2 linked regions of the Homo sapiens genome follow. The protein of the gene in region 2 purifies or fractionates together with the protein of the main gene of each other region. This does not show direct contact. Each region holds a gene or a part of one and is shown on either strand. Other genes may lie near its edges.

The links. Proteins that work in one complex are often made in the same cells at the same time.
Region 1: the proteins of OLFM1 (region 2) and BMAL2 purify together in Homo sapiens (affinity purification with mass spectrometry; 2 studies listed by BioGRID and IntAct, with this or other methods). This does not show direct contact.

Annotation. Positions count from the first base shown.
Region 1 is NC_000012.12:27,335,836-27,339,335, reverse strand, and holds part of BMAL2 (basic helix-loop-helix ARNT-like protein 2), read right to left. Parts: intron 1-3,500. UniProt on the Homo sapiens protein: Transcriptional activator which forms a core component of the circadian clock.
Region 2 is NC_000009.12:135,101,168-135,104,667, reverse strand, and holds part of OLFM1 (noelin isoform 4 precursor), read right to left. Parts: intron 1-3,500. UniProt on the Homo sapiens protein: Contributes to the regulation of axonal growth in the embryonic and adult central nervous system by inhibiting interactions between RTN4R and LINGO1. Inhibits RTN4R-mediated axon growth cone collapse.

The sequences.
Region 1 (3,500 bases), on a different chromosome or scaffold from region 2:
GGTAAATATACACCATGGAATATTATGTAGCCATAAAAAGAATGAGATCATGTCCTCTGCAGGAACATCAATGGAACTGGAGGCCATTATCCTTAGCAAACTAACACAGGACCAGAAAACCAAATACCACATGTTCTCACTTATAAGTGGGAGCTAAATGATGAGAACACATGGACATACAGAGGGAACCAACACACACTGAGGCCTATTGGAAGGTGGAAGGTTGGAGAGGGGAGAGGATCAGAAAAAATAACTAATGGGTACTAGGCTTAATACTTGGATGATGAAATAACCTGTACAACAAACCCCTGTGACACGAGTTTACCCATATAACAAACCTGCACATATACCCTTGAACTTAAAATAAAAGTTAAAAAAAAGATAGTAGTAGTTCCCTTTTCAGGAAAGAAAAGATGAAAGAGAGAAGGGGCCCAGATAACTTGGAGTGAAGACTAAGACCTAAGAGACAACCATCTGGCAGGAACCAGGAATCAGTGAGCTTTCCGGCTTTCTTACTGATCAGAAATATGCCATAATTTGCCTTTCAAGGTGACTTAAAAGTTCTGTTGCCTGCCAGGAACCAAAAAGAAGATGCATGTATCTTTCCTTTTGTAGAGCAGGAAACTCACCTATGTGTAAGACAGGCTGCCTGTGTTCACTGTCCATGCCTCATCACAGACCTTGGAGGGGAAGCCCAATAGAAAATGATGAAACTTTTCAGTAGGCCAGTTCTTTCCTTTTCAGTTTTCCTATCCAAAGCCAAAGGATACTAACATCAATTCTTCTGTGCATGTCACTGGTGATTTTCCATTTCCATGCCTACTCTGTTCCCTGGAAGACCCCCTCCCAAACCTTTTTTTTTTTTGGCTGCCTCTCCAAGAGTTGTCTTTCCATCGATACTAAAATTAACCCCTTCTCTGAAAGCCTTCTGTGGTCCCTCTTTCATGAACTAGATATAATTTCTCCCAACTGTGGGGGAGGAGACTAACTCCTAACAGTTAGCCCATATATTGTACCATGTGCCTACCTTATATTACAAATATTTTGGCTGCATTTCTCACCCAGCCTAATAGATTTTGTAAGCTCTTTAACCCCTTCTCCTGCTTTATCCACTTCTGCTTCTCTGTTTGCCTAGTAAATAGTGCGTATTTAATGGGTCCTTTAAGAATGAACTAACCCTTTCCACACCTTAAGCAAACTATTCTTCATTCAAAATCTGCAAGCCTTTATTAAGCACTTAATAGGTGCAAGAAATTGGAGATTATAAAGCTGAGTAAGAACCAATTCTGGCCTCCTGGCAATGTGCAACTTAAGGGTGGAGCTAAGAAACCAAATAACTTGTGGCAGACAGGCACAAGTGTTATCATAGGCACACAAAAAAACTACAGTGTGAAAATAGGAGGGGAGAATAATTTCAATTTGGGTGACGAGGAGATTCTGGGAAGGTTGCATGAGGAAAAGGGGAAAATCATTTGTTGAAGGTCAGAGTTCATTAAACAGTTTGTAATCATTATCTCATTTAATTCCCAAAACAACCTTCCAAGTTAGGTATTTTTACCCCTATTCTACAGATAAGGAAATTGGGGCTCAGAGAAGTTTTAAAATTTGACCAAGTTTACAAAGCTGACAAGTAATGAAACCAGAAATCACAAGCCCAGTGGCCTAGTTCCAAAGCTTATATTGATTTTCCCACACCAGTTCTCCTCCTCCACACATACAAAAAAAGTGACATCTGCGCTCAGCCTTCAAGCTTGATTGGTTAAGATTCTCCAGACCCATCTAGAGGGAGGGCAGGGGTATTCCAGGAACAGCCAACAGCCTGAGGAAAGGCCTGGAGGTGGGAAAGTGTACATTATGTTGGGGAAAGGCAGGTTCCTTCACATAATTGAGTATAGGACATATCACAGGGGCAAAGGTGGAGGCACTTTGGTCAAGAAGGGTAGTAGATGATTCTCTACTTTCCCTGTGATATGCTTGGAAAATATGATAAAGTATATTTCTAATCTACTTAAAAATGTATGAAATGTTGTAAGTAAAACACTTTGAATGTCTTGGAAGTTATTGTTTTATCACAATAGTCTTAACCTTCAATTCTAAATATCCTTTAATGCAAAGCATAGAGTGGAAGAATGATTCTCTTTACATTTCCTTTTCCTTTAGACTTCTTTGTTTTTAATCTCGCTGTAATGGTACCATCTAGAGATTTAAACCATAAGATTAAAGACTAGAGAAATGAAATACAAATAATTTAGCTACATAAATGTCAAATTTCCTATCATGCCAACCATTTAAGTATTTTCAGGTGAGAATGTTAACACTGTATAACTGAACTGATTTTAAGAAGTTTTAAGGAAGTTTAAAATACTTTTTTTTTTTTTTTTTTTTTTTGAGACAGTCTCGCTCTGTCACCCAGGCTGGAGTGCAGTGGAATGATCTCGACTCACTACAACCTCTGCCTCCCAGGTTCAAGTGATTCTCCCACCTCAGCCTCCTGAGCTGGGATTACAGGCACGCACCACCAACGCCGGACTAATTTTTGTATTTTTTAGTAGAGACAGGGTTTCACCATGTTGGCCAGGCTGGTTTCAAACTCCTGACCTCAGGTGATCCACCTGCCATAGCCTCCCAAAGTGCTGGGATTACAGGCGTGAGCCACCGCGCCCAGCCAGGTTTAAAAATATTTTAAGTTAAAAAATTGGGTGGGTAAATGGGATATTATAGCCTAGTGTGATACAATGTAAACAGTATGTGTCAGGGACCAGTAAGTGTGACAGCACCTGAGTAAGAGAAGGAAACAGGGTGCGGCAGGGCATACATAGCTAAGTATTGCATAAATTATCAGTAAATATCTAGAAATACTACACGCTACTACAGAGAACATATCTCACCTGCAGTCCTAGCTCCAATAAGGGCTTACACTGAAGGCTCTTAGTTCCCACTGGCTCCTGCCACTGGGAAGGGGTGAGGCACTGGGCAAGGCAGGGGCTACAGAGGGCTGGGATGCTGAGAACCAGGGGAGCCACTACAGGTAGTAACCTTGCAAAAACCAGGGCAGGAAATCACTGTCTCACAGAACAGGCGGATGTCTCAGGTGCCCTTGCCTCCTGTAGGGCACATGGCACACTCTGAGGTCCCTGAAAATGCTTATGACCATGATGATGCTGACTAATGACCCAGACCCCAAGCACCCGAGTAACTCAGTTGTCAATGCAGAGAAGTGGAGGTCTTCAATTAAATGAGACAACTGAAAACTAGGGCTACCAGAATGAATTGTTATTTGCTCATTTATGATTTCCTGAACATGACACAAATGGAGATTTCAAAAGGATGCTACCTCAATGTTCACAGCACAGAACATCATGCTTTTTAGAACTAGGGAGTCATTTCACAAGGACAAAGTAAACTGAAATCACTGTATTCTCCTACTGATATTTTGGCTTTCCCTATATATTTTAAACGTTAGTTTTTGTTTTTCCTGGAGTCAAACTTTGATGGAGTGG
Region 2 (3,500 bases):
AGAGGCTGGTGTCCCCTAAGACAGTGCCTTGGCCCTGTGAACATCCCGTGAGGACTTTCCACGCCGTGGTTCTGTTAGTTGTCCGGAAGGAGAAGCCTAGAGGAGTGGCGGCCCCATGCTGGGTTTCCATCCAGCAGCGCACACGGGCTCTGGCCACTTCAGCCTCCTCAGTCAACACGCCGGGCCTTCCGTGACGCTGGCCCACACTAACGCCCGGAACCACACCCGCAGCAGACTCATCCCGGTCGCATGACCTACCGGAAGGAGACCAGGTGTCTGCCCTCCACCTTGCAGGCAGCCGGCAGAGGCCAGAGGCAGCAAGTCAGTGCTGGGCTCCTCTCCGCCGCCTGGCCAGAGCCCCGCCCTGCTGGTTCACGCAGCTTTGCTCCAGCTGTCCCTCCACCTGGTGTGCCGGCCCCAGCCCCACCTTCCCACCCACCTTCACTGGCTTGCCCCAAACTGACACCTCTGCCCTAAAGACGTGCCCTTCCTTCACTTTGCCTGGTCTGCCTGTCCTCACTGCAGCCGGAGCCAGCTTCCCACCGTACATCTCATGGGGCTGCCAAGGAATGTCTGGGTCTTACTGCCCCAGGGAAGAAGCTTCCTGCACTCACCCTGTTTCCTCCAAAACTCAGCCTGGGGATTTGTATGGAATGAATTAATGAATGAACGAATGACTCATTGCTCAGAAAAGCCTCCCAAGTCGAAGGCTTCACTCTCTGTCTCAGTGAAGGAGGGAGGGTGACCCTCTTCCCTGGGGGCTGCTGTGTACTCCCTCTCCTTCTCTATAGATGGGCTAATAACAACAGTGCCCCCTCGGAAGGCTGCTGTGAGAATTAGGGCAGGGACCACCAGAGAGCTTTTGGGACAGCACCTGCCACAGAGTCAGAGCTCCACAGAGGTCAGGAGGCATCACTGGGGATTCAGCCTGAGGATGTGCAGAAAAGGCGAGCCCAAGTGGACGTGGTCTTCACCCCTCCCACTTCATCCCGCCCACCCTGGACCTTGCAGTTCTGCTCTCCAGAGGGCGGCTCTGCCCCAGGCCCACCCTGCCGTGGGCCAAGGGCTCCCTCTTCCCTCCTGCATGGGCCCCACTGGCTCAGAGCTGAGCATCACCCTCTCCAGCTCCCTCTTTTAAATGCAAAAGTGACCCCTTGAAATGAGCCTTAAAATCCTGGCTTAGCAAGGGCAGGGAAGGGTGAGGCTGGCTCTGCACCCTGATCTTCCAACTGCTGGCTGTAGGCACAGCTCCCAGGGCCCTTGGGGCTGGAGGCCACCTGCCCTCCTTGAGTCAGGGAGTTATTTTTGGTTCTCCATCCAGACTGCTTCTGCCAAGACCTCAGGAACTGACAGGATCCAAAAAAGCCCATGGCAGAGCCTCAGTGGAATCTTGGCACATGCAGTTCAGGAAAGCGTCCCTCTCCAGTCACGAGCACTCAGGATGCACACACAAGGAGGGAAGAGGAGGGGAGAGGCAGGAGAGGGCTGGCCGGGCTTCCTGCACTGTTGGAGGCTCAGGAAATGGCCCAAACGGGCTCTCTCTCCTAGGAAGGCCTGGGCTTGGAGGGCCAGCATGCTCAGCTGGAGGGGCAGAGGCCCCCCGACGGCCCCAGACGGGCTCAGAGGGCAGAGCGCTGTGCAAGGCCGGGAGCCTGGACAAGCTGATGCCCCTGCGGATGAGACAATCTGCCTCTTGCTATTCACAAGAGGAGGCCACTTCTACGCAGCAGCATGGACGATCTCATAGAACAGGCCCGGGGAGATGCCCACTGAGGACCTCAGGCCAGAGACAGAGGGGTCTCTGGGCAACAAAGGAGACAGACCAGGAGGGCTGAGTGCCCTGAAGCAGGCAGATGGGGTTCCTGTCCTGCTGCCTGTCCTCTGAGCCTATCTCCCTTGGTCACAGCTTTTACCTCCTGCAATCCGGGAAGACTTAAGCTGGAAGAAGTCTGCAAAGCTGGGAACTTGGACAAACCGATGTCCAAAATGCAGATGAAAGAAGCTGAGAACCATGCTGCATCCCCGCCAGGCCTCGAGATCAGACCCAGGGCCTGGGCTGGGGCGGCCACTGAGGAAAGGGTCACGGCAGACCCTCTTCCTCGCATGGCAGGAAGGGCGGGCCTCCAGGAGACTCTCACCGCCTGTCATCTGGAGAACTTCCTGGGAGAAGCCCTGGCCGCCCGGGCCCCACTCAGTCAGTGCTTCTGAGCGGCTTTTTAGATTTTGGTTTATTTCCTCCCCTGTCACTCTAGTGGGTTTTCCTTCAGAATCCACTGGCAAGGGCTTAACTCTCTATCCTTGAACGCACCATGTGTGCTGGTGACAGTGGCTCACTGTCTAGCTCCACTCAGGGCCGGGGGCAGGAGAAGACAGACCCTCTCTCTGCCTGGCTGACCCTTTCTCACATCTCAGGGTCAGGGAACAAGAGGGAGGCTTCAGGTTTGTCTCCCCCAGGACAGAGTGTAGGGCATGGTGCCAGAGCCAAGCACTATGCCCTGCCATCCCGAGCTGGGACGGGGGCCTGCAACTGGACTTGCATCAACCTAGATACCCAGGCAGGCCCAGCTCCCAGCGGCTGACAGGGGACTCTGAAGCTGGAGCCAGCGGGCTTTGTTAAGACGCGTTCCAGTGAAACAAAAAGACCCGACTGACCCTGAAGCCCAGGCTCTGTCTGTGCTTATGGGTGTCTGGGGGCTTCCCAGGCTTTGGGAAAAAAAAGAAACTAAGGAAGCCTTTAGCACCAGAGTGCCAGGATGGTATATCTGGGAGGAGCCCTTCAAATCAGCTGGCCCCCTCACCCCTCATTTATAGAGAGGACCACGGAGGCCTGAAGCTGACAGGCACATGCCACGCCCCGGGAGCTCCATGGGTAGAGCAGCATCGTGCACTGACCCTCACGCTTCTGGCTTCGCTCAGCTTTGCTGCTGGGGCATCTGACTCTGCAGGCTCCCCTGGAGAGAGGGCCCCACGCCCAGCTCAGGGGACGAGGCCAGGGGCACGGGGCAGCACTGACTCTCCCCTTGCCTGGCAACAAGACTTGCTCCAGGGGAACCGGCAAACTGCCTCCTTTCCAGAGGATGCCCGAGAGGAGAGGTTCAGATTCAAGTTTCTGGCTGGGCCATTAGGAAAATCATATAATGCCATCAAAAGAGGGATCTTCAGAATTGGAAACTGAAAACTGATGGAGCCCTGGTCCTTGTTTTCTCTGTTTCTGAGTATGTTCTGGGCTTGTCAGCAACAGTGACTTGAAGAAGGTAGCAGCAAGGAGAGAACTATCAGGAAGACTTTGGGAGAGCCTCTCCTCCAGGCTTACTGCAGGAAGGGAACCCGGACCCTGTTCACTAGACCATGGAACCTGCAGTCACACTTCACACCAGCAGGAACAGCAGGCACACCAAGAAACTGCGGGGTCCGGGACAGGGGAGGAAACTGCCCACTACTGGAGGCCACGTCTCACAGAAGCCCTCACCACCCAGGACGGCCGGCAGCGGGTGCCGGCT